2 separate regions of the Homo sapiens genome follow, and region 1 is linked to region 2. A link means that fine-mapping ties the variant in region 2 to the expression of a gene that starts in the linked region. Tissue or cell type: whole blood. Region 2 holds a variant in brackets; the other region holds the start of a gene. All regions are shown on one strand. Distances are between the middles of the regions.

Region 1 (14,601 bases), 27 kb after region 2:
CTGGTTGGAGTTAGCCACGAATTAATGAGTGTAGTTGTAGGGAGCGGGAAGGTTCATGGAGAAGAGTGTTCCAGGCAAAAGAACTAAGTTGTATGACCATATAGAAACAAGGAAAAGAAAGCCTGCCTGTGGATGATGTGAAGAAAGGCAGGGATAAGACTGGAAAGTGTAATTAAGGAGTTAAAGTTTTATCCTAAAGAAATGAGAAGCTAAGCTGCGTGTGGTGGCTCACGCCTGCAATCCCAGCACTTTGGGAGGCCGAGGCAGGTGGATCACTTGAGGTCAGGAGTTCGAGACCAGCCTGGACAACATGGTGAAACCTCGTCTCTACTAAAAATACAAAAAATTAGCCAGGTGTGGTGGCACGTGCCTGTAATCCCAGCTACTCCGGAGGCTGAGGCAGGAGAATCGCTTAAACCCAGGAGGCAGGGGTTGCAGTGAGCTGAGATTGTGCCACTGCACTCCAGTCTGGGCAACAGAGACTCCATCTCAAAAAAAAAAGAAAGAAAAAAATGAGAAGGAGAAGCTAGAAAGTGTTTTAAGTAAGGAAATGACAATATCAGATTTGGATTTTAAACAGACTATAACACAAAACAGAGATTGGGCTTGGTGGGAGGAACTATTACAAAAAGGGTATGATCAAAGACAAAGACAGAAAGAAGTTTAAAAGCTAATAATGTAACCTGGAGAAAAAATGACAGTGGTAGCAATGGAGACAAATAGAACTGAGCTGATACAAAAGCTAAGTTGTCTCTTGGGAACTCCTGGGAAAGGAAGAGGTGGAGGGAAGGACAGGGGACAAAGGCAAACTGCCAAGCTTCCGGTTCTCCACCTTCACTTCAAACACAGAAACCACCAACCATTAAGAGAGAGACAGAGGAAGAGGAGTCCACAGAGAGGCTGAGCAGAAAGCGCCAGAGAGATGCCGGGGGAGCGGGGCAGTGTGGCATGGTGTTTAGTGCAGAGAAGTCGAGCACACTAAGACGTGCAAAGCGTCTGCTAGATTTAGCAACAAGAATGTCATGGGTTGTGGTATTTTAGCATCATGGTGAGAGAGACCATACTGGATTGAAAAGCAGCTAGAGACAGCATGTGTAAGCAAAGTGTAAGCAAAACTAAAATTCATGCCTTGGAGAATTTAGAATCCACAGCCCTGGCAGAAGTTCTTTAGAATGAAGAGGAATAAGAATCATGAATCACCAAAACACAAAGAATAGTAAATAAAAAATTTAGTCTTTGAAAAATATTCTGAAAGGTATAGAGCATGCCTATTTCAGATGCATTAAGAAATGTTCACATGCCTTATCATGTAGATAACACATCAAGGTTTAAATGTGTCTGAATGTAGCAATGACTAAAATAATATTCTTAAATAGTTAAACATTTACCTGTGTTTTTCTTCCTCTTGTAAAGGAGGCAAAACATAGAGGTCGTTTTCTCTTCGAACTTGGGTAAGACTGGGTAGTGCTTCATCTCTGGAAAGTACACAAATCTTTAAACAGATTATGCAGACCCTGCTCAGGATGGTGAACAGGGACCTGACCTGGCTGCTCTCAGGCCACTGCTGTGGAAAATAAATGCAGCCGAGAGAAAGGAAGGAACCTTGGCGGGGCTGCTCACCTAGAGTCAAGAAGACCATAATCAAAGTAAAAAGTGTACATGACGCAACACGACAGCTTTTTTTTCTCATTAGCAAAGTTGATTCTCACAGAACGGAGAATTGCCACAACTCCAAATTACCAGGTCAAAATGGCAGCCTACTTGTCTCATTTCACTCTCTATTTTCTGTTGAGAGTCAAAATTAGATAGGGAAAGAGAATCGCAGGAAATCAAGACAAAAATCACTTTTTTAAAACTTCATCTCTAACACGACTATAATTTTCCTCTTGCCTTTTGCTTCTGAAGGCAGTTTTGATGGCTTGTCTTTTCAAAAATGTTTTCAGAAGCTTCTCTGTCGTTTTCCTGGAGTCACTGGACGCTAAGTCCTTTCTCTGCCTTCTCTTCACCTATGAGAAGAAAGGATGTAAGATCTCACTTCAGGATATTAGACCACTAGAAACATTGCTGTGATTTATTTTCCAGAGAATTTGGTTTGTCTGAGTTTTCAGACTATGGCTGCTTTAGCATTTCCTCCTAATTGCCATATCAGTGTATATCTTCAGGTTGCTGCTACGTAAAGGACACCCAGAGTTTCCATCTATTACTTAATGGGCTACTACACAATATATTTGGGAAACTTAATTTACTTTCAGTTTCTTTTAAATGTCTTTTAATATGCCCAAGAAGTGGAAAGCTTAAATGCTTCCCAAAAGAAATTATTTATTTATTCTATAAAATGTCACAGTGACACCAAAAACAATTTCTAATATTGCTTTTTATAAACATGCATTACTTACATGTAATTCTGCCCTTCAATATTCAAGATTATATATCATGAGAAATTCTAAAATGTATAGAAATATCTTGTAAGAAATGTTCAAGTAGTGACAAATGGATAGTCCCTGTGCTTATGGCTGAATATCGGATAAAAATAACCAAGATATTCTCTTTTCCTTTCTAATCCTTCCACAAAGTACCTGATTTACAGTATGCCTTGGGTAACTGAAAACTGCAACATTCAAGACTAGACACTCTTACTGAGGCAACAAAGGTCCCCCAGCATTTATAAATGCTTTTTATTTTTATCCTATATCCTTACTTTTATCCTATATCCTCATTTAGAGAGTATCTGGTATGATTACAAAGTCATCATTTCATTACTTTGGTATTTTCAACAAATAAAAGTCATATATCCAAATGGGTGCTGTCATTTGGACTGTTTAAACATTATTTTATGTCATTTTTTTAGAGATGGGGTCTCCCTGTGTTGCCCAGGCTGGACTTGGGCTCAAGCAATCCTCCTGCCCCCGGCCTTCCAAAAACATTTTTTAAAACTACTTCCAGAACAATAAAGCAGCAACTCATTCTGACTCTTCTATATCATGGTCAATTTCCTTCCTAGATAATCCACTTTAGTCACCACTTGGCACCACATAACATTGCTTACTCCTAAAATCCAATTCCCCTTAAAAGAAGGCTTGCTATCACGGAGGATACTTGATCTCAGATTCAGGGAGGCACTTCCCAAAAGAGGGTTTCCACAGTGTTCTGAGTGATGGCCGCATCCTTGAAATAAATATAAAACACCTAACAAGATCCTCTGAAGGGAAAACTCTCAACAGCAAGGTTTTTAGTAGTTAGTTTTATTTAAAAGTTAAATTTTATCATTGTACCCATGATGAACTCTCATAAAACTTTTTAAAAGAAAAATTAATTGTTCAAGATAAAAAAGTAGATGTAATTAAGTATGTGTCAAAATAAGTCTGTTTCTAAAATTCTAAAGAGAAAACAAAAATTTTATGTGAATTTTTCTAAGAATGCAGAAAGAAAAAAATTATTTGACACTTACTAAAAACTATACGACACTTACCAAAGTCTGTTTCTTCAATAGTGGAGCATCCCCATCAAACACAAAAATAGGACGAATTCGAAAAAATAAGAGTTTGCAGAGCCGATGAAACAAAGTGAGAAGATGAGGATTTTCTATTGAGTTCCCATGGCGATCCCGGACTCCTTTAAGTGCTTGGTTTAACCAAATGCTAATATCTGGGAGAATTGTTAATGGAAAAAACTCCGGGATTTTTCTCTTCATCCTCACAACTTCAATTTCCTAATAACTGATATTATCCAAACGTTGAACACTAAATACTTATCACTATTCATTTAAAATTGAAAAACATTTAGCTCTCATGGGATCTACCTAAAGTCAGTTAACTTTTAGTTGAACTCTTGTTACCCCTATTCACATACTGCATTTTAAAATCATACAAAGACAGACATATCCTTTTAAGAAGTCTCATTGCAAAGAATTGCTTCTTTAAAAAAAAATAAGTGATTGCTAAAGAATTTTCATGAATTAGCACAAATTTTCTGGAGGACAATTTGACAATTCATAGTGAAAAAAACTTTTTAAAACTTTGCAGTCTATTTTACCACTTCCAGACATTGATCCTCAGAAAATCATCATGGATATATAATGAGAGTTATTTACAGAATGCTTGTTTATAATAATGAAAATATAAAAATCAACTTAAAAGTTTTCCAGCAGGTCTTTTTAAAAAACTAATCATAGGCCGGGCGCGGTGGCTCACACCTGTAATCCCAGCACTTTGGGAGGCCGAGGCAGGTGGATCACGAGATCAAGAGATCGAGACCATCCTGGCCAACATGGTGAAACCCCATCTCTACTAAAAATACAAAAATTGGCTGGGCATGGTGGTGCGCACCTGTAGTCCCAGCTACTCAGGAGGCTGAGGCAGGAGAATCGCTTGAACCCAGGAGGCAGAGGTTGCAGTGAGCCGAGATCGCGCCACTGCACTCCAGCCTGGTGACAGAGCAAGACTCCGTCTCAAAAAAGAAAAACTAATTATGGCAGACCTATTTGCTGGAATACCAAAAAGCCCTTAAAAATGGAAGTTGCAGGAGCATGTGTGATAAGGAAGATAGTCATTAAATATTATTAAAGATAGTAAAACAGGCTATAAAACCATATAAAGTATAACTCCATTTTCTGATACAGTATATATGTTAAATATAAAAAACTAGTTCACATACCAAAATATTAAAGTAGATATTATGTCTGCTGAGACTAAAGATAACTTATATTTTCATCTTGAAGTTTTCTTATATTTTTAAACTTTTCTAAAAAGTGCTTCTCAAAAAATGTTATATTTGTCCAAAAGAAAGAGTGACACCGCGCTCTGCTGGTTTTCCTGCTCTCAGACTCTTTGCCAGCTCCTGTAACACTGTTAAAGTATTCACTTCATCAGTGATCTTTCTCAGGCCCTCTTCTTTCCTCCTGTCTGAACTATCAACCTCCACTCCCCTCCACATACACCACGCCCTGACTCCATGTATATGTCTGGCCCAGAGCACGCTCCTGACCCCAGAACAGAGAGCCCAGATGACGTCTCTACCCCATACCTCATAGACATTTCAAACTTAACATGATCAAAACTGAACTCCATGTCTTCTCCACTCAGCTGCTCATGCCCCCATCTCAGTGAATGTCCCTGCCATTCACCTGAGCCAGAATGCTGGGCATCACCACCTATAGCTATTACCAGGTCTATCAATTCTATCTTCTAATGTATCTTGAAGGTATATACTAGATTTCACCAACGTATCTTTGGTGAAAACCCTCCAAAGCTTCCCACTGCCTTCAAGATACTATCTAAAACTTCTTCTCCTGGTCTAGGAAGCCTTGAATGATCTGGCCTCTGCTCACTTCCTGCTACTGGGCTTTCCTCAAACCCAGAAATCACTAAGCTCCTTCCTGCCTCCAGGTTCTTCTCACATGCTGCTTCCTCTGCCTGAAACAGTTTCTCCCTCTCTCCGCCTAGTTCTCTCCTACTCTAAGGTCTCAGTCCAGGGGTCCCCTCCTCAGTCTAGATGAAGACATCCTCCTTGTATACATTCCTATTTAAAAAATATATTGAGGCCGAGTGCGGTAGCTCACACTTGTAATCCCAGCACTTTGGGAGGCCAAGGCGGGCAGACCACCTGAGGTCAGGAGATCGAGACCATCCTGGCCAAAATGGTGAAATCCTGTCTCTACTAAAAATACAAAAATTAGCCAGGCATGGTGGCGTGTGCCTATAAGGCTGAGGCAGGAGAATCGATTGAACCTGGGAGGCGAAGGTTGCAGTGAGCCAAGATCACGCCACTGCACTCGAGCCTGCGTAACAGAGGGAGACTCTGTCTCAAAAAAAAACAAAAAGAAAAAAAAAACAGAGAGAAACCTGGACTGATGCTAATATTTGCAGGTAAATTTCTAACATAGGAAAAGAACATTGAAGGGGCCACCTATCACGTTATTTCTGTTTTTATTATGTGGCAGCATTTTTTCTATGCACTGGCATATCCAGTGCACTGAACAAAACACAGTATTGGCCCTATGGAGTTTATAATCTAGCAGGGAAAAAACCCAGCCTGTGTGCTCCATGGCTTGCCCGGGCAATTTGTGCACTGCACTCCCTTTCACAGGGACTCTTATACACAATAAATATCTGCTATTAAATAAGTTGAACAGTTTAGTATTTAAATGAATGTACACTGCCTAACTTTTACTAACATAAAAAAAAATGTAGGTCCATCAACAATTAATTTACAAAACACTATGTAACAAAATACCTAGTGGAAAGCAAGCTACTGCTATGCTTATTTCTATAATATTTAGCAATACCATGGGCCAGGCATATCCAAGACCCTAGGGATATACACCAAACAATTCAGCCATGAACAAAACAGAGACGGTCCCTATCTCCAGGAAGCCAGTGCAGCAGGACAAAAGGAATGGCAGGAGGTGATACGGCCACTGGGAAGTTTCTAGAACATGATTTAAGGATAACTTTGATGAACATGTGAAGAACAGATTATAAGGAAACCAGTTCTAAAATGAGTTACAATAGCCCAAGTTAACGCAGACAGTAGTGGTGGAGACCACGAGAAGAGATCGGATAAAAGATACATCTCAGAGGTAGAACTTGGTGTTGATGTGCATCTGTCTTGTATTAGATCGATGTTTCTGCTTGCTACAAGTATAGTCTGGAAAAGCCATGAAGCTCACTATTACATAGGATTAAATTAGTTTCTACTTGGCCCACTACTTTAAACTTTAACTTCAGTGAGGAAATCTAGTTTCAGATCAGTGGCTCTCATCCCTGCTATCCATTAGAATAGGATATGAAGCTTCTGAAACATACGGATTATTAAACCCCATGGGCCTAAAATTCTAAATCATAGAGACTGAGGTAGGACTTCTTTTATTTTTTATTTTTCAATTAACTACAGGTAATGCCAATTCTCAGCTAGGGTTGAGAATTTTGGCTTGAATTCTTAGAGATGAAATATGTAAAATTAGACGACCTGAAAATATTCACATAAATTGTTAGACAAGAAATATGAAAAATGAGACAATCTGAAAATATTTGTATAATTTGACTTGTCTAATTTCAGTAAGTTTATATACGCAAAATTAAATTTCTGCGGACAGAAAAGTTAAAATCTGCAGCAAAGCCAAAAATCACTTTCGGTATAAGACCCAAAGACCAATAACATTTCAATACAAAAAATAAGTTTCTTTAGTTCTTTAGTTAGGTGACTTAAAAATCTCCATTAGTATACATAGCCTAAAGAGATGGTAATATCTTGCTAATACACTTAAACGCATATTACAAACATTAAAATCTATAAGAGACAAAAGTTTAACTTACTTCTGCATTATTTGACACAGACATTTAGACTGTATAAATAAGACACTAAGCTATATAGATGGTTTAAAGACCAAACAATTTAGTATAGAGATACAAGAGTAAATTATGAAACTAGTATAATAACGGGTAAGTTTGTCATTAACAAACAATACAATAAAATCTAAATAATTTCAGGTGTCTGAATTCCCGTGAAAATGAAATAAAGCAAAACCGATTGTAGAACAAGTAATCAGATATACTCCTTTGACATAAACGAGTTTATTATAAATATATGAGGTTGTCATGACTAGAATGTCTTTCACAGTCCTTTTTATTTATTTATTCAGAGACAGACATGAACACGGCTCATTGCAGCCTTGACCGCCTGGGCCCAAGCAATCTTCCTGCCTCAGCCTTCCGTGTAGCTGGGACCAAAGGTGCAGGCCACCACGTCCAGCTAATTTTTTGACTGTGTGTAGACAGGGGTTCACTATGTTGCCCAGGCTGGTCTTGAACTCCTGGGCTCAAATGATCCTCCTGCCTTGACCTCCCAAAGTGCTGGGATGACAGGCGTAAGCCACTGAGCCTGGCCACAGTCCTCTTTAGTAATTCTTCACAAGGGCTGCTACATAAAATGATCTAAATCTTTGCTGAAGTTTTAAGGGTTCTTGTCACTGAAAACTAACCTTTACCCTTTATTTCTGAGAAAATCTTTAGACTGCAATGATACTAAGCAACAGCTTGAGGGCAGCAACAGCGCATGTGCTCTAAAAAACAAAAAACAAAACAAAACAAAACAAAAATCCTTTGGCTTTCCCCAATTCAAAGTACCCTGTATAAAAACTTTTAAGCCAAAAATCAATTACAGATTTATTTAAAGATTATTCACTTGCAAAAAATGATAATCTCATTATGTTTTAAAACTTATCAATGTCGTTTTATTTATAAGTTTTGTACCTACTGAAGAATTAGGGCTCCACAGTCAGGGATTCCTTTGCTGAACGCCCACACACTCTTGCACTCCATTTCCCGTCCCCAATCCCCCCGCAATCATTTACAGGACTCTTTCCACAAGCCCACGAGCCCCTAGACTCATAGATCCCCATTTAGGAAATTGGTGTAAGGTATCACCAGATTCTGAGCCAGAATAGATACTCAAAAAAAAAAAAAAAATGACTACATAACAAAGAAAAAGATAAAAATTTCAAAAGCAGTATCACGTTTTGCTAATGAAAAAAGAATTTAATTCCAATGACAAACAAAACCAGCCAAACATGTACAGAAACAATAGTCCTTAAAAAGTCAATTTAAAAAATGGGTAAAACACCTGTCCACACTATCCTTCCTCTAAGAAACATAAATGGGGCAAGACTCAAGCAAAACTAATCGTCGAAGTCTACTCTGCTCTCCTTACTGACCTCCCGGACAGGATAATAACTTTAAGATTTACTGTATTAATCGCACTAAACTTCTCTCATGTAGGCAATTTCTTTATTCCTCATTCCAATCCTGTGTGTAGATACTATCACCACCTCTACTTTGCAGATGAGAGAACTAAGGCAGAGAGGAACATAAAGCACTGCCACAAAGTGACAAACCAGGATGCACAGGCCGCTAAGACTGCAAAGCTGGGGAAAGCAGACAGGGCGGCCCGCCTCATCACCCGATTCCGCAATCAACCTACCACGGATCAAAAATATTTGCGATGGAAAAAAATAAATAAATAAAACATACCAATAAAAACTACAAAAAATTTTAAAATACAGTATAACAACTATTTACAGATCACTTACATTGCATTCGGCATTACAAGTAAGCTAGAAACGATTTAAAAGATTACGGAAGTGGGTAGTTTATATGCAAATACCACGCCATTATATAAGGGAGTTGAAGGAACTTGAACATCGTGGTATACGGAGGAGGGGCTGGAACCAAAGCCCCGGGGATACCGAGGGACGACTGTACTTAGAAAACCTAGTGACAGAGATTCTATAGCGACCCCGACCCCGACCCAAGACCATCATCCTGCAGATGCCACTGTGCCCAAGGCAGAGCCCCGCGAGGAATCCAGCCCCGAATCCCTGCACCCCAAGTCCCAACGCGGCGTTAAGGATACCAACAGCCAGGATCTTCCCTTCCAGCGCTTCGGGGCTGACCTGCCGCCCGGAGCACTCCAGCAGCTTCCAGAGCCCCTGGACCCCCATGAGGCGGCTGCGTCCTAAGAGCGGACCCCGACAACTTCTACTCTAATTCTTCTACGACGGACTGCACCGCCGCCTAGGACCCCGGGAGGAAGCCCTCCCTGCTCCTACACAACAAAGATGGCAAATAATACAGAAGCCACGGTTTTCCAGTGGGGGACGGCACTAATGGGAGCGCATTAAAGCGGAGAGACTCTGGCTGCAACACGTCTCAGCAGCTGTCACCGCCTCCCGGAAGAAAGACAGGTCCAGAGAATGGCCGTTGGCGGGGAGGGGCAGGGCCTCGCCTCGCCCAGCGCTTAGGCCCAAACGTCTGCGCCGCTAATGGAAGACCGGGGTGCAAGGGCCACGCAGGCGACGGAAACAGCCAGAAGATGTCCCTGCGACACCTCCCGCCTTCGCTGGTGGGTCCGCAAACCCATGAAAAATGGGCCCGCTCGGTTTCCGTCTAATACGACGCGCAGGGCGGAAGCTCCGCCTCCGCACATGACGTATATTTTCTGCGCTTGCAGCACTCCGGAAGTGAGAAGTTTAGCGCCAGTGGTGATGCCTTGGTGGTTACTTGCTTCCGTCACGCTGGCATCCTGAAGGCGTTAAGCATTAAAACAATGTGCAAAAGCGCCTTCTTGGTGGAGTAACGGGCTTTTGTTTTTGTTTGAGACAGGGTCTCACGCTGTCGCCCATACTGGAGTCCAGTGGCGCATTCTTAGCTCACTGCAGCCTGGAACTCCTGCTGCCCGAGCTCAAGCAACTTTCCCATCTCAGCCTCTCAAGTAGCTGGGACCGCAGGTGCGCACCACTATGCTTGGCGAATTATTTTTGTAGAAATGAGGTCTCCCTGTGTTGCCCAGGCTGGGAACTATTTTCTACACGCTTTTTTAGTATCGGTTTCTACCTTTGCGCCGCCGTGTGTGAAGATACTTAACACAAAGTGTTGTTTTACACGTGAAGAGACAACCAAAAGGTGGATGCCTTCTTGGTTTTGTACTATTTATTTATATGCTAGCACGTAGTAACTAAAGAATAATAAAATTTAAAGCCTGTGAAAATGTTAGGGTCCCAAAATTACTAAGCAAAAGGGAAAAGTCAAGCTGGGAACTGCTCAGGGCAAAACCTGCCTCCCATTCTAGTCAGTCATCCTTCTGCTCACTGAGATAGATGCATATTCTGATTGTCTCCTTTGGAAAGGCTTATCAGAAACTCGTATGCAGCCTTTTGTCTCTCATCTACCTGTGACCTAGAAGCCCTTCCTGCTTCCGAGTTGTCCCCACCTTTCTGGAAGGAACCAGTGTACTTACATATGTTGATTGATGTCTCCTGTCTCCCTAAAATGTATAAAACCAATCTGTGCCCCAACCACCTTGGGCACATGTCATCTGGACTTCCTGGGGCTGTGTCACAGCTGCGCGTCCTTAACGTTGGCAAAATAAACTTTCTAAATTAACTGAGACCTGTCCCAAATTTTGGGGGTTCACAAGCCTTAATCCTTGACATATAGTTTAGTTTTCTTCAGCATCTAAAAGTTATAATGCCGCGGCTTGTAGATCAGAAAGGACTAGAAATCAATTAACAGAGTAACCCCAGAAAAGGCCACAGCTCTGGAACCCTCAGGCCAAGATTCAAATCCCCGCATCGTGCCTCACTATGGTGTTTAGCATCCCTGAAGTCACAGTTGTTCAGAATTTGTGTCTCCATCAGTAATCAGGGCATAAAACCAACCTTGCAGACTTCAGTAAGTATTCAAGGTGTTACATGCAACGCACTTAGCACTAGTAACTATAAAGGATAGTATTAGCATCCATATTTGTTCAAATTGGAACGAAATTTAAACTCAGTGAAAAGGCTGACTTAAGGGAGCAGGCAATTTTTTAAAGACTTCTTTATAACAGAAGTATACGGGAAATTGATTTTTTTTATTTTTTTATTTTTTATTTTTTTGACAGGGTCTCACTCTGTCGCCCAGGCTAGAGTGCAGTAGTGCAGTCTCAGCTTACTGCAACTTCCACCTCTCAGGCTCAAGTGATGCTCTTGCCTCAGCCTCCCGAGTAGTTGAGATTACAGGCCCCCACCACCACGCCCTGATTTTTTTTTTTTTGAGACAGGGTCTTGCTTTGTTGCCCAAACTGGTCTCAAACAATCCTCCTGCCTCAGTCTCCCAAAGTGCTGGAGTTACAGACATGAGCCACCGTGCTCCGTGGAGAAATCCATTTTTAGCAAAACCACTTCTATGCTCAATAAGATGGTTCACAGTGGCCATGTTTGGTTGACCTAGTCACATCTAATTTGCTACAGGAATAATCCTGACAAAGTGTTTTTTGCATTTCCTCCATATGTAAAGTAATCCCCAGAAACTGTTCCCAGTTGTTATTTTACTGAGAGTAATATAACTGCCTGTTCAGTATTTGTCTCTTCCCCATGGTAAACTGTAAACTTACTGAAACGAAGAACGATTTTCGTGACTGCTACATCCCCCAATCCTGGCACTTAGCAGTTCTGTAAATATTGCCTAAATGACCTCTTAAGCCTCTAGTCTAAAGCTCTCCAGTGCACCTTGCAGTCTGCTGAAAGAATCTGCTTGGAGGTTAGGCTGATCATTCATTCAGATCTCATCTGAACCATATGTTGCCTTGTGTTATGGTCTGAATTGTGTCCTCCAAAATTCATCTGTGGAAGCCTGAGTACCTCAGAATGTGACTATCTGAAGACACAGCGTTTAAAAATGATTAAATTGAAACGAGGCCATTAGGATAGGCCCTAAATCCAATTTGACTGGTGTCTTTGTAGAAAGAGGAAATTGGGCCACAGGGAGAGACTCCAGGGATGATAGGCACAGAGGAAAGGCCTTGTGAGGACACAGTGAGAAGGCGGCCCTCTGCAGGTGAAGGAGACAGGCCTCAGAAGAAACCAAACCTGCCTGCTCCTGGACTTCTAGTTTCCAGAACCATGAGAAAACAAATTTCTGTTGTTTACGCCACCCTGTCTGTGGTGTTTTGTTATGGTAGCCCTGAGAAACTAAGACACTGTGATCCTAGGCAGGTTTCTTCACCAATGAAACCCTCAGTTTCTGCCAGTAAAATTAGAATGCGACCAACATCTTGTTGTTCTTGTTGCTGCTGAGCTATTTAAGAACTGACCTGGTAATGGTGTATAATTTAGTTTGTTGAGTGAATCGCTGGTACAGGAGGGGTGGGAGTGTTATTGGTAAAGTTGAGATGCAGAATGTGATGGATCCTAGAAGAGCTGCCTGAGCCCCTCCAGTCTGGGAGAAGACAAGTTGGCAAGTATTTTGGGTGCTGCACCAACTTGGCCTAATGATGGCACACAGTTCTTTAACAGTAATAGCAGTAGGGAAAGGAATTGCTGCAGAATTTGATCTAAATAAACTTTTTTTTTTCTGCCTGTGAGCTGGGTAAAAATAAATAGCCAACATAGGCATTTGAGTATTGTAAGTACTTTTAAAACCAAAGCAAAGGCTGGGCATGGTGGCTCACGCCTGTAATCCCAGCACTTTGGGAGGCCGAGGCAGGCAGATCACTTGAGGCCGGGAGCTCGAGACCACCCTGGCCAACATGGTGAAACCCAGTCTCTACTAAAAATACAAAAATTAGCCGGGCATGGTGGTGCATGCCTGTAATCCCAGCTACTCGGGAGGCTGAAGCAGGAGAACCACTTGAACCCGGGAGGCGGAGGTTGCAGAGAGCACCACTGCACTCCAGCCTTGGCAATAGAGCGAGACTCTGTCTCAAAAAAATAAAGCAACATTCTTGAATATGAAATATTCTTTTGAAGAAACAGCAACTAAGGGGTGCATATGTGATTTAAAAGGAATTAGCTCCTTAAGATGCTATCTAAAGGGCTCTCTCTAAAGACTCTGAATAGTAAAATTCACATCTTTTGGAATAATAGCAAGCTCTTAAATAGCACTTCCTATCTACAAAGCACTGTTCTAAACACTACATGTATTAGCTTATTCTTCAAATTCATTTATAAAGTAGATACTATTACCCCCACTTTACTAATGAGGAAATAGGCACAGAAAAAAAATTAACCTTAACTTGCCTATATCACTATAGGTGATATAGCTTGTAAGTGCAGAGCCAGTATTTGAACTTTCACTGTATCTATAGGATTCCTAAGAGCTGACCAAGAAATCAAATATCAAGGGAATTTTACTAATCTTCTAAGAGAAGTATGCAGTAACTCTTGCTTACAGCTTCTGCGGGAAAGATAATCTCACTAAACTCAAACCTCATTGTGCTCTTAATAACTGGAAAGCCAAACTTGGAAGCCAAACTTAGAACAGATCAAGACTTTTATAAAAATTGATTATGGTCAATAGTCTGAATAACTCATCCTGTTTTTCTAGGTGTCTCCCTATCCTTTAATTTCTTATTTTATTTTGCATTTTTCTCCTTTCCTCTTGGTTCTTCCTACCTACGTCTTCTCTGAAATATTCAGTTGAACTGTATGAAATTGCTAATATTCAACCATTTTTGACCTACAAAGATGACAACTTCATTTGGTTCAAGCTAATAAAAGAATCAAATTTTCTATTTCCTATTAAATTAGAAATCTAAAATTACAGTCATCATAATGCATATTGTTTCATTAATTATAAAAGGCTCAAGATGGTTTCTTACAATGTACCAGTTGAGCAGAATTGACAAATTATCATGTACTTCAAAGACACAATGGTACCTTCTACCTAAAACAAAGGTTTAAAAACATTCATATAATTAAAAGTAGAAAACAAAACTTTATTTGATGAAATCTTTTTAAAAGTTCCAGTATGAAGTAACAAAATCAACAACCTACAAATCTCTTTCAGTCCTTTGCATTTCAAGCAAAATATTCTCTTCAGAAAAATGACCATTTCATAATATATATCCCCTTCTGTAGGCTAGGCATGTACGAGTGAACAAACGGATATAAAATTCAAGAAAAAAATGAAAATATTTTAAAAATAAAAATCTGAACCTTTTCCTTGAGGTGTATTGCGATATGGTTACCAACACATTCAGCACCTTGTAATCACCAAGTTACTGATTTGAGTCCTGGAACAAGACCCTAAAATTAAAGAACAAGAGATCCTAGTCATTTGTGAGTCA
Region 2 (15,518 bases):
GCAGGCAACATAGGATATTTAGAATAGTTAATGTGGGTAAGGTTTTAGACACCTTAGATTACAATATAGCCTTAGAAACACATACAGAAGAATTTTTTAGCACCCACCATAGCCCTAATTTTAATCTGTGTATAAATAAGTGACATCCTATAGTTCTTGGATCTTCATGCCAGTGTTGAAATATGAGCACTGAGCTATGGGTTTGCTCCATCCTTTCCAAGCACAGGATTCTAAGTATAAAAGAGGGCAGGAAAAGTCAGTATCCTTCAGTACTTGAGAACTGAGTGTTCCTCTACTTGGTGATGGCTTTCCAACTAAATGCCACCTGATCTGCTCCAAGGGCACATCCTTAATTCCCTTAGCTCTGTGTGTGTGAACACATTTTTAAAGCTTCATTTGGCTATATAGATGATTACAGAGTGTGTTTGTTTGTGTTGTAAAACATTGTAATGCTAGTTCCGTCTCAACCTTACCTTGAACTTCTTCCACTTCCTTTGTAATTTGCCAAATTATCTTCTACACAGTTGAAACCAAGAATTGTTACTAATGGTAATGATAATGATATAATTTTATTCATAAACCATACAGAAATTGCGTCTTCATTCAAATCATCTAAATGGCTGGGTTCTCTAAGTGATCGACTTAAATGGTTAGGTTTGCAAGAATCGCTTGGTAAAACTATTTGTGTTTAAGCCAGGTAGGCTGCCAACACTGGGCATACACCCAGCTTTCTTGGCCTAAAGATGTGTTCTCCTAGGTAGAAGCCACCTGGAATGGCCAAAAACAGAAAAACCAGAACTATAGTGTTCAGAAAACATCTACAGTGTGTGCAGATAAGGAGAGAACAAAAGAAATCAAGATATTTAGATTTGTATTACAACTGCTCTACAAAAATATGGTAATTTTTCTAGTCTGTCAAGAGTGTATGTCTGTACTTTTGATCTCAAGACAATGGGGACAGTTATATTACATAACCCATGCAAAGTCACGCTTGATACTTAAGACTATATAAAAATGATGGTTCAATTTCAAATAACCACACTGATAGTAGAATTCAAACTTAATCTCTTTACATCCAGAGGTCAAATTACATTATGTATTTGCCTCTAATAAATAGTTAGAGGAACCATAAACTCAGGCTACAGATGTCTGTATAGCCTAAATTCACCTTTCATCCAACCACCAGTAAAAACTTATAGTTTTCACATAAAACTATTTTTATCTTTCTTGCAAGCTTCTTATCTGAAATAAAATTTGCTTAGAAATCACATCATACATTTAGTGTACAGCACTTGAGAAAAAAATGTATTCCTTATTTGAAGATCAAAAACCCTGTACATGCTTAGTAAGTCTATATATTTAATTTAATCTGTCAAAAGTATCTTTAACATATCATCAAGATCATGGTATAGTAATAGACTTAAACATGATTCAAGATGTTTGCAGGCTCACAAATATAAACCAAGACATAATATGCCATTGATAAAAGTGTCAGCTCCATTTAAGACATTAATGAATACTACAAAGGTGACACTTTATATTCTATTAGTTATTTGTCTTCTTAGAATTGGTAAGCTACATAAACATAAAATGACTTACCTTCTTGAGCTTCTGAATCCATCAAGTAATGAAATGATGGTAGGTGATATATTGATGTTTTCTTCATTATTTCTTGAAAACTAGATAGATAATACATTAAAATATCAAATGGTAATAATTCAAAATATGTATGGAGTGCTTTTATAGTTTCTTAATAAAGCTTAACTTCAAATACAGCAGACAAAATTATATTAAAATATCATATATTAACGAAGCGTGACTTAAGAAAGACCATCTAAACACTATCTAGAACAAATTAAAATCAGAACAAAAGCTTCTGAGTCAGAAATTTTAAAAAGCTACTACAGAAAGAAAACATATTCTTCACCAGAGACTACCTCAGTTGTAACAAAGAAAGGCATCATCTTCATATTGACTAGTAAGACTGCAATCCTAAAATTTAAGAGGCGATTAAAACATTGAAAGTTCACTTGTTACCATCAATGCATCATTAGCACCTATGCAATGTCAAACAGCCTCATTGCCAGATAATCTTTTGAGCAGCGTCTACCTTAAGGAGTCCATACCATCACAGCCGATATATTTAAAACTGAAGAAACTATTTATGCCTCTTGAATAGAGCAGATTATCTGAATAAATTTAACAGTTATTCAAACTTTAGAAAATAACGATTTGATATTTTACTTCTCAATCTGGGGTAAAATAACAATTGCAGTACCATGAATTAATATAGCACTCCTTTCTTCCGAGAATCCCAAAGCACATTTTACAGCCACCACATTTTCTTTTACAGCATACTTCAGCAAGTTAGAAGACATTATTTTCCCTACAGTTTGCAAATCAGGAAAACCAAGGTTAAATTATGTCATTGAGGCTACACAGCTAAAACGATAGCAAAAGTGGTCACATGTTTTGCTCCCAATTTAGATCTCTTCCATTAAAGAAAGACATGTCTGCCTTAAGGCTGATATTTAAATGGAAAGCCTGGACATACCTAAAGGAGTTAGCTGAGTTTCTAGAAGGTTAAAATGTATCATCCACAATTTTTGTTTTTGCTGCTGGGACCTCTGGTAGTGACTGAAAGGCTAGCATCGCAGCACAGTTTACTACTATACACACTCGCTACCACTGGTAACGAGTCCAGGCAGAAGGGATTAGGATTCTGACAGCTGCAGCTCCCACGCCTCTGGTTATACAGCAGTGAGACGGCAATGCCCGTAACTAAGGGGGCAGAAGGCTAGGAATATCCCACGAGTGTCTCGTGAACAGAGCTAAAGGTGAATACAACCCACTCCCGGAAGTGAGTGAAGACTATTTGGAGGAAGTGATCCAGCTTTTAACTTGGATGCCAAGAGTTATTCTAAGACTCCGTGGCTATGACATTCTAGGAAATGAACGCTACATATTTTTCATGTCACCTATCTGCATGGGAACACTGTCTTTAGACTCCAACAACCATACTAGAATGTCTGTAGCATTGCTCTGCACCCAGAAATCAAACTACCATGATTCCTTTTTATTCAGACTGAATGGGCAGGCTCCGAACATAGATCCATCTGTGCACCTGCCCAAGTGCATGTATGTGTGCCTCTCAGAGGACATACACATTTCCCATGCCACTGGAAAGATCCCTGATAGAAAGTTACAGAGTTAAGATAAAGCAATATTGGAAAGTTAAACTTAGGAGTGTGACTACAGGTCCATAATGTATACACAGATGAATCGAGGTCACTTTAATGTATTGGAAAGGGCTAGGAGTTGGGAAGCCTGATTTTAGTTATTCCTGCCTATAATTAGATTGTGATTTTAAGCCATTTACTTAGTATGTTTCTTGGTTTCATCATCTATAGAACAAGTATATATCGGCAGGGTGCCTTAGCCTTTGGGAGACCAAGGCAGGAGGACCACTCAGCCCAGGAAATGGAGGCTGCAGTGAGCCGTGGTCACACCACCAAACTCCCGCCTGGGTAGCAGAGCAAGACCCTATCTCAAAAAAATATAAATGTCTTTTAAAAATGATACAAAAGTCATACAACATATATTTGTGGGGTGAATATTATAGGTAAAAACATTCTGGAAAGTTCAAAATCCTAAGCAATGTGAACTATTATTCATAGGCAGTTAACTTGGGGCAGAGGATACTCTTTCTTTGGGGCTTTTTTAAAAACAAAATAAATGACGAATAAAAACCATTGTCTTTTTTAAGGATTTTTTTGAAAGATCATGCAATCCTCACTGTTAGATCTCTTAAGAGGCAGAATCCCTCAATCAAGCATCTTAACCAACATGACTGTTTAACAAATACATACAGACTTCTGCCTCCAGCTGTAAGTAGCTTATAGCAAACCTCAGCTTCTATTAACAATGAGAAAAATAGATTTTTAAACACACACACACACCCCACACAAACATGCCTCTGTTATAAAGTATCAGAGAGCTGTCAAGGCAGCCAAGAATTCCAGGCATTGCTGTTTCCTGAGGAAGCCAAAGAGAAGACCGCATGTAAGGATAGCAGCGGAGCATCAGGCAATCTCACAGAACTGTGGAGACAAAAGAAGAGTGTGGCTGCCAAGACAGTCAGATTTGTGGGCCCAAGATCCCAGAAAAAAGGGAGAGAGAAGCCTGACGCTTAGTGCTGACTATTCAGTCGAAGAATTGACTGATTAAGCTGTTTAGGGCAAGAGGCTAATTTTTGAAGCATTCAGTGGCAAAAGCAGATCCAAGCGCAAAAGAAGAAACATCAGGGCACTCCTGGAAAGTGACTTTCCTGGAATACGGGTGAAACTAGAAGCTGGAGTCTTACAGAAAAAACTGCAAACTAGCCTTCAATCTACTTTGTCCTCGCTGGCTGCACTGAGGTGATCTTCCCCTCTGCTGCCTGTCCAAATACATTCTGGAATCCTCTCTAGAGGAAGGTACAGGGTACCTATAATTTTTCCCATAGACTGTCCAACATTCAGTTAAAATTTACCCATGCATACCAAGAAACAGACAATAGAAATAAACTCATAGGTGACTTAGATATTGGAGTTATTCGACAGACTTTAAAGTAACTGTGATTAAGATACTCAAAAACAGATGACAAGAAGTACACCAGGGAACTGGAATCTATAAAAATGAGTCAAATTGAAAAAAAAAAAGAGTCAAATAAAACTGAAAAATAACAATCAATGAAATAAAATACTCAATATATGGGTTTAACAGCAAGTATAGATAAAGCTAAACAAAATATTAATGAGCTGGAAGATAATCGAAAAGGCGTATGATGGTCATCATCCTAAATAAGCTCTAGGTACACCAACTTGATGTGAATAATAAAGAATTTGTTCAGCTGCTGATTATTTTAAACAGGCAACCTCTTTCATAGGTAAAATAGCACCCTGGAATTTTGAGTTAGAAGATTTTGGTTCAGGTGAGAAGTTTTACCTACTACATGGGTGAATTTGGCAAAACTGGTTAATGTCTCTAAACGTGTTTCTCCCCTTGTAAAAGCATTATGTCTTGGTCACAGGGTTAAGAGAAAAAGAAGATACAATATCAAACTCTCATATAAATAGTGTTACAGAACAGGTTTCTCATGGTCCTGACCATCCATTTCCCCTTCTGCTTGCCCTGGACTTTGGTTCTTTCCCCTTCTGGCAGGATGCAATGCAGATGAAGTAATCACCCAGTATAGACCACTCAGGCAAGATAGCACCCTAGGGGTTGGCTGAACACAGGACTGCATGACCTCATGGTGCACAACTGCTTCACCAGCTCAGACTGGCCAGACTGTTGAGTAAGAGAGAAGTAATGTTCTAGCTTATTCAGACCACTGTATATGAGCATCTTTTGTTACAGTAGCTTATCCTTTCCCAAAGCTAACGCAGTGAAAAACAAATGTAAATATCTATTAAAGGCATCAAATTAAATTTGTTAGCAAGACAATTATTCTACCTGCAAATATATATGCAGAAAACTCCCAGTGACAAGTAATTCTGAGAAATGAGAAAAACACGAAAAAGTTAATTTTCCCCTCCCCTTGCCTCCAAAAATGTTCTGCTCCAAGTACCTCCAGAGAAAAGAAGCATGAAGAAAAGATTTGAGTTTATGTGGAAATCATTGTTGACTTTAGAAGGAGCTGCTAGAGAAGAATGATGGATGCAGAAGACGTATTTGAAATTAGGAAAAAATAGTGTGCAAAGAAAAGCAGCTGCTGTAGTCCAAGTACTGGAGAAGTTTGGCTGGCCAAGTCAATATAAATGAGAGCCTAAAAAACAACACATCTAGGAGTCGTTCAAAGACTGCTGGAGATTATCTATTTGGATTTTGTTTTCATTGGTGAAGATTTTCAATTTGAAGGCTGAAGGAAAAAGTCAGGAAAGATGGAAATACTAAAGATGCCAAAAGGACACAGACTTGGGAAGGTAGCTCTGAAGGCAGAGGACCCACGCTCAAAGTAATTGGTAGTACTCTCCTCCAATCATTCTTAACTCGAAGCAAATAGGAGCTTGGGGGTTGTTCTTGGGAGACGTCTCCACAGGAGCAGTCTTAAAATAACCTTCTTTGTCCACTCTGAACAAACACTGTGTCAACAACAATCATCCCCTGCAGGCCACTCCTAAAGCTGACCCACCTACACCAGTTCAACTCCAGCCCCCAGCCTCCAAATCCATTTACACAGAAGTCAGCTTCTAATAAGTGAAGTCTGGTTTAAAAGCCAAACATAACGGTACAGAGGTTCCCATACACTTAATGTTCACAGGTAGAATGATGCACCCCATTTAGGTTTCCTAATTGTTTGCTAAAACCACAGCAAACATATTGAAATATGTTCCAGCAGTGAGGCTCCCTCCTGCTATGCTTTTAAGTGGAACCTGAGGGAAAATGCAAAGCCGTGGGCAGCAGGGCTAAACAGTTGTGTAAAACTGCCACTATTGTGGAATTAGAAACATGCACGTATTTCTTCTCAGCTACGTCTGAATGTCAGAGGGAAAGCCTATTGAGAGTGAGTGCTGATCAATAGAAATCTTTTTCGCTTTTTTAACATGTGACCAGGAAGGATCAGACATTGTTAAGATAATGAAAACATGAAAAGACAAAGCCTGTGAATACAAGATAATATCCAATGATACTTGAAATATTCAGCTAAAAAATACTAGAAAAGTAAAACATTAAAAAACAAATGTCAGATTTAGCATTTGTTTTTAGGAACCACACACTAAATACAAAGACCGTGCCACCAGTTAATTTTATTACGTCTTTGCGACAAATTCATTACAAATGGCTGTCATAACTAATTATAGAGGATACATATTTTTTAATTAGGTTTTCCTTTTTCTTCCCCTCGCACGTCTTAGTTTCCTTCTTTTCTTCCCAAACACAGATCTGGCGGTCACGAGGACCATCTTCTCTTTCCCTCCATCGTCATCACTATCACTAGAGCTGCTGGTGGTCGCACCTCCATTCTTCACGGGAGCTTCCTTCACTGAGTTCTGCGAATCTGAAGCACTGGTTTTTGGCTCTTTCGCAGCTGTTCTCCTTTGTACATTCATTAAAGATGAACTTTCAGCATCTTCACTTGAAGATCCATCAGATGATTCTGAGAGGCAGGTCTCCCCCAAAAATCCACCGCATGTATTCTTTCCTTTAGAATCTGAAAGCCTCTTTCTTTTCAGGCTTGATGACTCTTCTAAGGTATTTGTTATGCCTCTCTTCTGGGTTTTTCCTTTTGCCTTATCAAGTAGCTCAAATTCTTTCTCCATGGCAACAGAAACTGCTTCTATTTCGCTGGCTGCTGCTTCTTTCTCTTTCCTTAGCATACATGTCACAGCTCTGTTTAGTCTCTGGCTCTTAATACGTTTAGCATCTTCTTTCTCCTGTTGTGCTAATCTAAAGAAGGAATCAATTCGGAGCTGTGTCTAAAAAAATAACAAAAGAATAATAATAATAAATCAGACAAGTAAGTCAAGTTTCTAAACCAAATCAACAAGCTCAACCTTGATCACTCACATTGGATTACTATGTCAGAGAATATTAATTCATTATCTCCCAAAACCCAGTTCTCTCCCAGTGAATTACTGACAGTAATTTTCACTTTCTAAATCATACCTAAAGCAGTACTTGTACCATCTCTGTCAACTAAGTCTTTAGTCCACATCTCAAATGAGAAATCTCTTCCTAAGATATTCAAAGAGCGTTAAATATTTTTCTGTAGCTAAACATTTCATCTTCCTCAGGAGCAACACGACTTCATGGGGCCTGTTTCTAAGTCCTACTATATCTTTCTTTTAAAAACATTATCATCATACAATACCTTTGAGAGGCAAGTTCACAGTATATATTAGCAACTGTAAGAAATATTCATGCCTTTTATTCAGTAAATTCACTTTTAAGAAGATATTCTTTGGCCGGGCATGGTGGCTCACGCCTGTAACCCCAGCACTCTGGGAGGCCGAGGTGGGTGGATCACGAG[G/T]TCAGATCGAGACCATTCTGGCTTACACGGTGAAACCCCGTCTCTACTAAAAAAATACAAAACATTAGCCAGGCGTGGTGGCGGGCGCCTGTAGTCCCAGCTACTCGGGAGGCTGAGGCAGGAGAATGGCGTGAACCCGGGAGGCGGAGCTTGCAGTGAGCCGAGTTCTCACCACTGCACTCCAGCCTGGGAGACAGAGTGAGACTCCGTCTCAAAAAAAAAATATATGGGTAAAGCTATATGCCTAATGTTCATCACAGCATTACTATAACAAACTTGAAAATTAAAGGTCTAACAAGTAAACTGAACTAATTATTTAAATATCTTTCATGAAATATAATCTAGTCATCTGGAATTAAGAAAACCACACAATACATAGAAGAAAATATGCTAATAAGTTGGGGGGGAGGATTAGATCTATTAAGTTACATTTAGTATGGCCACAAATAAATGCAGGAAAATTTTTTAACCTAAATGTTAACAACTGTATTAGAGGAGGTAACTAATGAGTAGTTTTAATTCATTTTCTTCATTTTCTAATTTTGGAAAAATAAACACATTAAGTTTTAGAATGAAAAAGGAGATAAATATTACAACAAAATTTATCTGAAATTAAGAAATCACCAGACACTAAGACAAATAGCTTTCCTTTTTGGTTGGTTTATAATGTTTCCAGTAGATAGTCATCCAAAAAACAAAGAGAAACTCATAGAAATGCTGTCTTAGTTTTGTTCATGTTTTTCAAAATTATCCAAGCCTAATGAAAATGGGTTTAATTTAAATATATTATCACAAAAGCTACATTCTCATTTCTGCTAAGTGGTTTATTTGTATGTATGTTTTGTGGGTTGTTTCTAGTGTGGGCGAAAGCTTGTTTTGTGTGAGTCAGAACATACTCACAGATAAAGCAAGAAGTAGGTACCTAGAGGAACTAAAGGTCATACAAAAGGGCTCCTTCCCACAAAAACCTCTCCTACTGATACACAATAATGACTGAACTTCTACCTTTCAAGATTCGTTTATAGAATTTAAAAATATTAGTACTTATAAAAACTTAAATGATCAGAATTGCTTTGAAGACTTCCTTTCGTTAAAAAATGAAAGTAAATCCCAAGGGGTAATGTATTTAATCAGAAACACCTTAGTGTGAAATCAGTTATTAGACTGGTTTTTTCAAAGAAAAAAATGAATATGAAAGGACTCCAAAGTTCAGCCCTAAGAGTGATCATAGAAAATGAAGCCAAAGTCTAACTTTTCTTTTTCTATTTTCTTCTATTCTCTCATCTAAATTATCCTAATTTCAAAATGTCTGCTCTATGCCCCAAAATAAGAGTTAACTGGTCTTTAACAGCTGTCAACCACAGCCTACCCTTCATCCTGAACTTAGGAGAAGGGTCCACCATGATTACCTGCTGGGCATCGAGTTGCTTTAATACAGGAAACAGAGATTCATCTGTCTTCGTTCTGTTCCAGCCGAAATACCGCTGACAAAATATGCATGCAGTTAAGACTTATAAATATTTTGAAAGATATTTAAACAAGTGACAAATAAAAAGGTCCAAAGAACCCATTCTTGATTCCATTCCCTGTATCTCCTAAGATTTTCCTATTTATAAAGATTAGAGTGCTAAAAGAAAGTACTAACAAAATAAATGACTCCAGCATAATCATCTGGCACTATGTTCTTTTCAATTCTATAAAATAAAACATATTTAGCTCTCACTTTAGGACATCAAAGACTTGTGACTATGAAAAAAGGTTAACTGGAATAAAAACAAGTTTCAGATATCTTGCCTATTTCATTAAGAGAAAAAATCAAACGTAGTTGGATTAATTCTAGTGCAAGTTTTGAAACATCTATCCAAATGATTACTTAAATATACACGGAAAGGACAACCAGTAATAAAAAGGACAAGATTAGTCATCTTTCCTTCTTTCAGAATCAATAATATTTAAGTATGTGGTTATATCTATGAATGCTTATCACTGCTTATTCAAACAAAGACCCTCTTTAAAACTAAGGAGAGGGGCCAGATGCAGTGGCTTGTGCTACTTAGGAGGCTGAGGCAGGAGGATTCCTTGAGCCCAGGAAGTGGTGGCTGCAGTGAGCTATGATTGCACCACTGCACTCCAGGCTGGGTGACAGAGTGATACACTGTTCCTTTAAAACAAACAAACAAACAAAAAACAACAACTGAGGAGAGGGAAGAAAGAGTGAAAAGGAGAGCGGGATATTAAGAAAATGGGATTAACGGGATATAAGAAAAAAATGATCCAAGTTTCTCTTCCATAAGTTTTAAACCAAACACATATTTGACAAGGTGTTTCCTTCTCTTTTAAGAAGCAAAGGATATTCTCTAATTTTGTCGAGATCAGGTTTCCCCCACAGAAAGGATCCCTTCGAGTCATCCACCACGGGTTTGAGGTAGGCCTCGGCAACAGCTGGGTTAGGAAAGCCAGGGGTGAGTTGCAATGTCCGTAATTTTTTTTTCACTTTGGTGTCATGAGGATTAGGTCTTATCTTTGGATTTTTTTGAGCTTCATGCCACCATTCTCTGTAAAATAAAGGAAACAATTACTTACACAGCAATGAGACATTATAGTTCATACACTATGGATGAAGAACTAAACTTAGAACATGTAAACTCAAGTTCTAACTCAAATTGTATGCTATATAGAATATTTTATTAATTTTAGTACTATTAGCCACAATGTATAATGATGGCAAACATTTATGGAAGTCTTCCTCTGTGCTTGGCACTGTGTTAAATATTTCACATGCCCAATCATCACACAAGCCATGCCCTATCGTTACCCTCACCTCACAGAGGAGGGAACTGAACTCAAAAATAAGTAACTGGCTCAAGATTTCACAGCTGGAATTGGTACAGTCTTCCTCTAGAGCCCACACTCATAATTATACCACAGAAGTTACAACTTCTCTGGGTCTCTTTCTCAGCAGTAAAATGGAAGTAATGTATCTGTATTATTTACCTCAAATCAAATACAATAATGGATCGAAGAATATTTAATAAAATGTAAATATGCCAAGAAAATGTTAAATTTGTTTAAAAAATCTGTAAAAACAGATACATGTATCTGTTTTTAAAATTTAACATTTTATATATATATAAATACATATGTATGTAAAACAAATAAATATATACAAAAACAGAGATAATAGAACTCTACTTAAAGTATGATTCCAGTTTTGGAAAAAACACATATATGAGAAAAGTAAACAGATACTTAAAATAAATAACACTAACAACTATTATTTCGCTGTGTGCTAGGCAATATTCTACGTGAGCACACAGCCATTCATTTTCTTCTTTATATTTTATTCATTTTTCAATGTTTTCCATTCTAAGCCTAAATCGGCCGGATAAAGACAGCGACACACTCTTGGACCCTCCTCCCATCACGAAGGGGGTCCCTGTGGCCTCCTCTTGAGCAGGGCGGCCATGGCTGACCAGTGTGACTCAAGCCGTGCCAGGCCTAGGGGAGGCCCTCGCCACTTCCTGTCCCCTGGACCTCCTGCTCTTGGCTCCAACATGCTATGAGGAAGCCAAGCTCACCAAGTGTCCACCCAGGCCCCGAGGCCGAAGCCACCTCATCAGCCCCGCGAGCCATCTTAAGGGGTCCTAGCCCAGCTGAGCTGTCCTAGCCGACATGGAACAGAGACAAGACACCCCCACCAGGCCTGAGCGAGCTTCAGAGGCATGAGCAAAATCAGTGACTACTGCTGTGTGAAGCCACTAAGGCTGAAGGTAGTTTGTAATGCAGTGACGACTGACCAGAAACATTTACACAATTAGGAAAAAATAAATGCCATCAAAGTTACTAACATAATCCTCACCAATCTATGTACTCAATGGAACCTGAAAAAACGCCCGCAGCTCAGGCTCCCCCGCTTCACAAGCTTGCTAGTGCAGCATTAGGAACCCACTCAGACCGGCTGTCAGGGCCAGGGTCCGCCTCACCGATGCAGGAGTGCCATCTAGCGTTGGAAATTACTAATTGCGGTCTTCAAAGTATTATAACAACAAAATGCAAAAAGGAAAAAATAATTTTTCTTCATTACTTTTACAACATTCTTTCCAGGAGTGCACTGAGAGAATACCGATAATTCTCCTCTACTTTACTTGCAGATTTTCGTTTTTGAAACTGTAATCATGACTGGCAGTTAGAATCAGTGCACTTGTGAGCTCATCAAGCCAAAGCTATGGTTACTCCTTCAAGCAGGAGGGCCTGGCACTTCACATAAAGATGAAAGGAGGAAGGTGTCTGTCAATCAGCTGAGCTGGGGGAGTGGAGGCAACTGTGATGAAACTGAAGGATTCATGCCCAGTCCAAGGCCTTGGGGTAGGGGAGGGGAACTGCTGTTGCTCCATGCCAGCTATTTTGGGGCTATCCAGAAATTCAGGCCCAGTATTTTCAGCTCTCCTTTTTCCCCCAACAGAATCCATAATTTTGTGTAAAATCTCCCAAAGGTAAATGTTGGTAGCCAATTGAAAATTAAAGCTCAAGAGAAGAATACACCGTGTAGTCCAAACCAAATGTGACTACAGCTCAATTCAACCTGCAGGCCCAATGCAGCCCCACTCTAAGAATGATTCACCAGCCAGGGTGCCCTCAGAAGAGGAGAACAGAAAACAAAGTGAGGCCACATTCTGATTTTACTGGTTTCCCACCATCCTTCCTGCTCTTTACTCTGTATTCATCCTAAATGTCCTGAGCCAGGCAGAGCGAAGGCTGCTCCTATCTGGCATCAACGAGCTGGAGGACCAAAGGCAGAAACTGCTCAAATATGAAAATGATTCAGCAGGCAACAAACGAGCAAAAACTGCTGAACAAAGAAAAGTGGAACAGCATAAACAGGTCATTCACTAAATCAGAAACACAAACCGTCTATGAACATAAAAAATTCACTCTCAATAGTTATCAAGAAACCAAATGGAAAAGTCAGATACTATTTCACTTATTCTAAAATAATCATTAGATAAGAACCCGAAGATTAAGGACACTCAAATCAATGTCTGTTAATACCTTTCTAAAAATAGAAATAACAAAAGACACTTGATTAAACTAGCCCTGATAGACGCAAAAAGATACTACCTGTAGCCATTAAAAACGATATAAATCTATATCATCGTTGATAATAGGTCTTGTTCTAATACCAAATGGGTTACAGGTAAAATAAAAAGTATATAGCATCATCCCATTCTTATAAAAAAAATCATACACACACTCAAATGAGTATACATATATATGCAATGTATATGCATATATATGTGTGAAGTCTAAAATTACATAAACAAATTGTAAACTGTAATCATCTTTTTAATACATATTTATAATTTTCTATGATGTATTTACTTTATTTGTATAATAAAGTTATTTGTAGGTTTTCAAGTTATTTACCTACCATGACGTATGTCTACCTCATAACTCATTCCCGGTATATAAATTTCCTCAACAATAAGAAAATCAGAAAAAGATAAATGAAGAAAGTATAAAATACAACACATTGGTGAGTGTGCTATGACTGGAAGACCATGATCACTACAACAGTTTCGCCGTTCATTTCAGTGATTCCAGTCACTGACTCTTCAGGTCAGAGCATCCTAGCATCTTTCAAACACAGGATATGTAACTGGAGAGAACACTCAAGGATCATTAAATCAGCCACCACCAAACAGCATCTCACGACATAGTGACGGTTAAAAGATGCCACCACAATCTTGTGAATACACTAAAAACCAATGAACTGTACACTTTAAATCGGTGAACTCTGTGGTATGTGACTATATTTCAATTTTTTAAAAAGATGCCATCAAGGACAAAGAAAAAACTACTTTCCCAGACATACTCATAACTCCTACCATCTCAGAATCTTCAAAATGATAAATGTACCCCGAGTATAGCACGACTCTGGGTTCTGGATGGAGCAAGACTTCACCACTGAACACGTCACGGGATTCACATGGTGAGAAACAGGACAGGAGTGCTGGATGTAACATTCCTGGCATTATATTTCCAAGTCGCTTCCTGGCTGACCTCTCTCAGGACACCAAACACACAGACAAGTACAATTTGCTTTGCTTCTCCATCACCTCCAAGTATATGGGGGGAGTCCTTGAGGGTATGGCCTATGCCTTACTCATCTCTCCTTTCCCCAGGGCCAGCACAGTGTCTGACACATCATAGCTGCTCTATAAGTATGTCAATGGATGAAAAGGCAACTTCTACATTCCTGTGAAATCCACAGGACTGGCTTTGTACCCTTGAACTAGGATAAGCCCAGCACCACTAAGAACTGACTCTGATTTCATCATCTCTAGAAAATGGAAAACAACCAATACTTTCTGCTGCTTTCTCAGTGAACCATTGTTCACATGTTACAGCATGACAGTTCATGCTGTAAATAATAGTTCTATTTGCTTATTTGGGTATTTACACAATTATCCAAATTAAAGAAATAAAAGACCTTACGAGAATTTTAGGAGAGGTTCCAGGCCATGCCCAGGGAATTCATTGAGAATTTCCATGGCGGTTACACAACCCACAGTTGGTATTCCTTCGGTATAATCACTTCCAAGCAAATAAGCCAAATTTATTAACTTATTCCGGTCCAATCCTAAAGAGTAACAATATTTTTTAATTTTTATCAAGATTTCTTATATGACATTTATAAACATTTTATTATATAAATCATGTACGTGTGTATATCTATATCTATATCCAACCACCAAAAATATCTTATTATTTGAAAATAAATTATTTTATTCAATGGCATTCTGTTAATATTTTTAAAGTTTCATCCATTCTCATAGCTTTAAATACCCTCTATACGCTGACCCCCAAAGTTAGCTATCTAGCCTGAGTCTCTCTGAACCACAGTCACATATATTCAACTATCAACTCAACACCTCCACTGGGTATCCAATGAGCATCCCCAATTTATCATATCCAAACCTGAACACTTCGTTTCTCCTCCTCCACTGTGCTCCCTCCTTGTCTTACTGAAGGCAGGTCCACTCGACCAGCTGCTCAGTATCTGGAATCCTCCTCGACTTCATTCTTCTCCCACCCCACATTCAATCTGCCTGCATACCCTAGCACACCAGACCCTGGTGGGTTTCAGCTTCTTCCTATTCTCTAAGATTAACCCTTGCCATTTCCTCCCTCCTCCTCTCACACTGGCCTCCTTGCTTCCCTAGAACACAGCCCACAAGCTTCTGCCTCAGCCCCTTTCACTCACTAGTCCCGAGGTATCTATCTACAGTGCTTGCTTCCTATTTCCTGCAGGTCCCTGCCTTGAAGTTACACGAGTAAAGCCTTTCCCAACAACTCTCTGAAACAGCACCTGCACTCTCGATGCCTGAAGTTCACTCTCTCCTCTCCTTTACTGTTATATTTTTCTATTTGGCACTTACCACCAACTGTCAAATTATGATTTATGTATCTGCTTATCATCTGTTTCTCCTACTATTTTACTCTC

Evidence for each region.
Region 1: it holds the start of ERCC5, and the variant in region 2 is fine-mapped to the expression of ERCC5 in whole blood (TOPMed, PIP above 0.99).

What each region holds. Positions count from the first base shown.
Region 1 is chr13:102,841,162-102,855,762 of GRCh38, reverse strand. ERCC5 (ERCC excision repair 5, endonuclease) reads right to left here and starts at 9,731. Exons shown (of 15, transcript NM_000123.4): 1 at 9,409-9,731; 2 at 3,470-3,645; 3 at 1,891-2,006; 4 at 1,389-1,475. The coding sequence starts at 9,496. BIVM (basic, immunoglobulin-like variable motif containing) reads right to left here. Exons shown (of 11, transcript NM_017693.4): 11 at 14,230-14,601. It overlaps BIVM-ERCC5 (BIVM-ERCC5 readthrough), which reads right to left. Exons shown (of 23, transcript NM_001204425.2): 10 at 3,470-3,645; 11 at 1,891-2,006; 12 at 1,389-1,475. RefSeq lists a silencer at 8,943-8,992 and enhancers at 9,154-9,976, 9,343-10,132, 10,343-10,392, 9,977-10,801.
Region 2 is chr13:102,867,249-102,882,766 of GRCh38, reverse strand. BIVM-ERCC5 (BIVM-ERCC5 readthrough) reads right to left here. Exons shown (of 23, transcript NM_001204425.2): 20 at 14,510-14,654; 21 at 10,369-10,569; 22 at 9,424-9,508; 23 at 6,772-7,460. The coding sequence ends at 6,864. It overlaps ERCC5 (ERCC excision repair 5, endonuclease), which reads right to left. Exons shown (of 15, transcript NM_000123.4): 12 at 14,510-14,654; 13 at 10,369-10,569; 14 at 9,424-9,508; 15 at 6,772-7,460. The coding sequence ends at 6,864. It also overlaps the pseudogene METTL21EP. Among named protein-coding and RNA genes, the nearest start is that of ERCC5, 29 kb to the right of the region's middle. The variant G/T (reference allele first, on the strand shown) is at 8,015.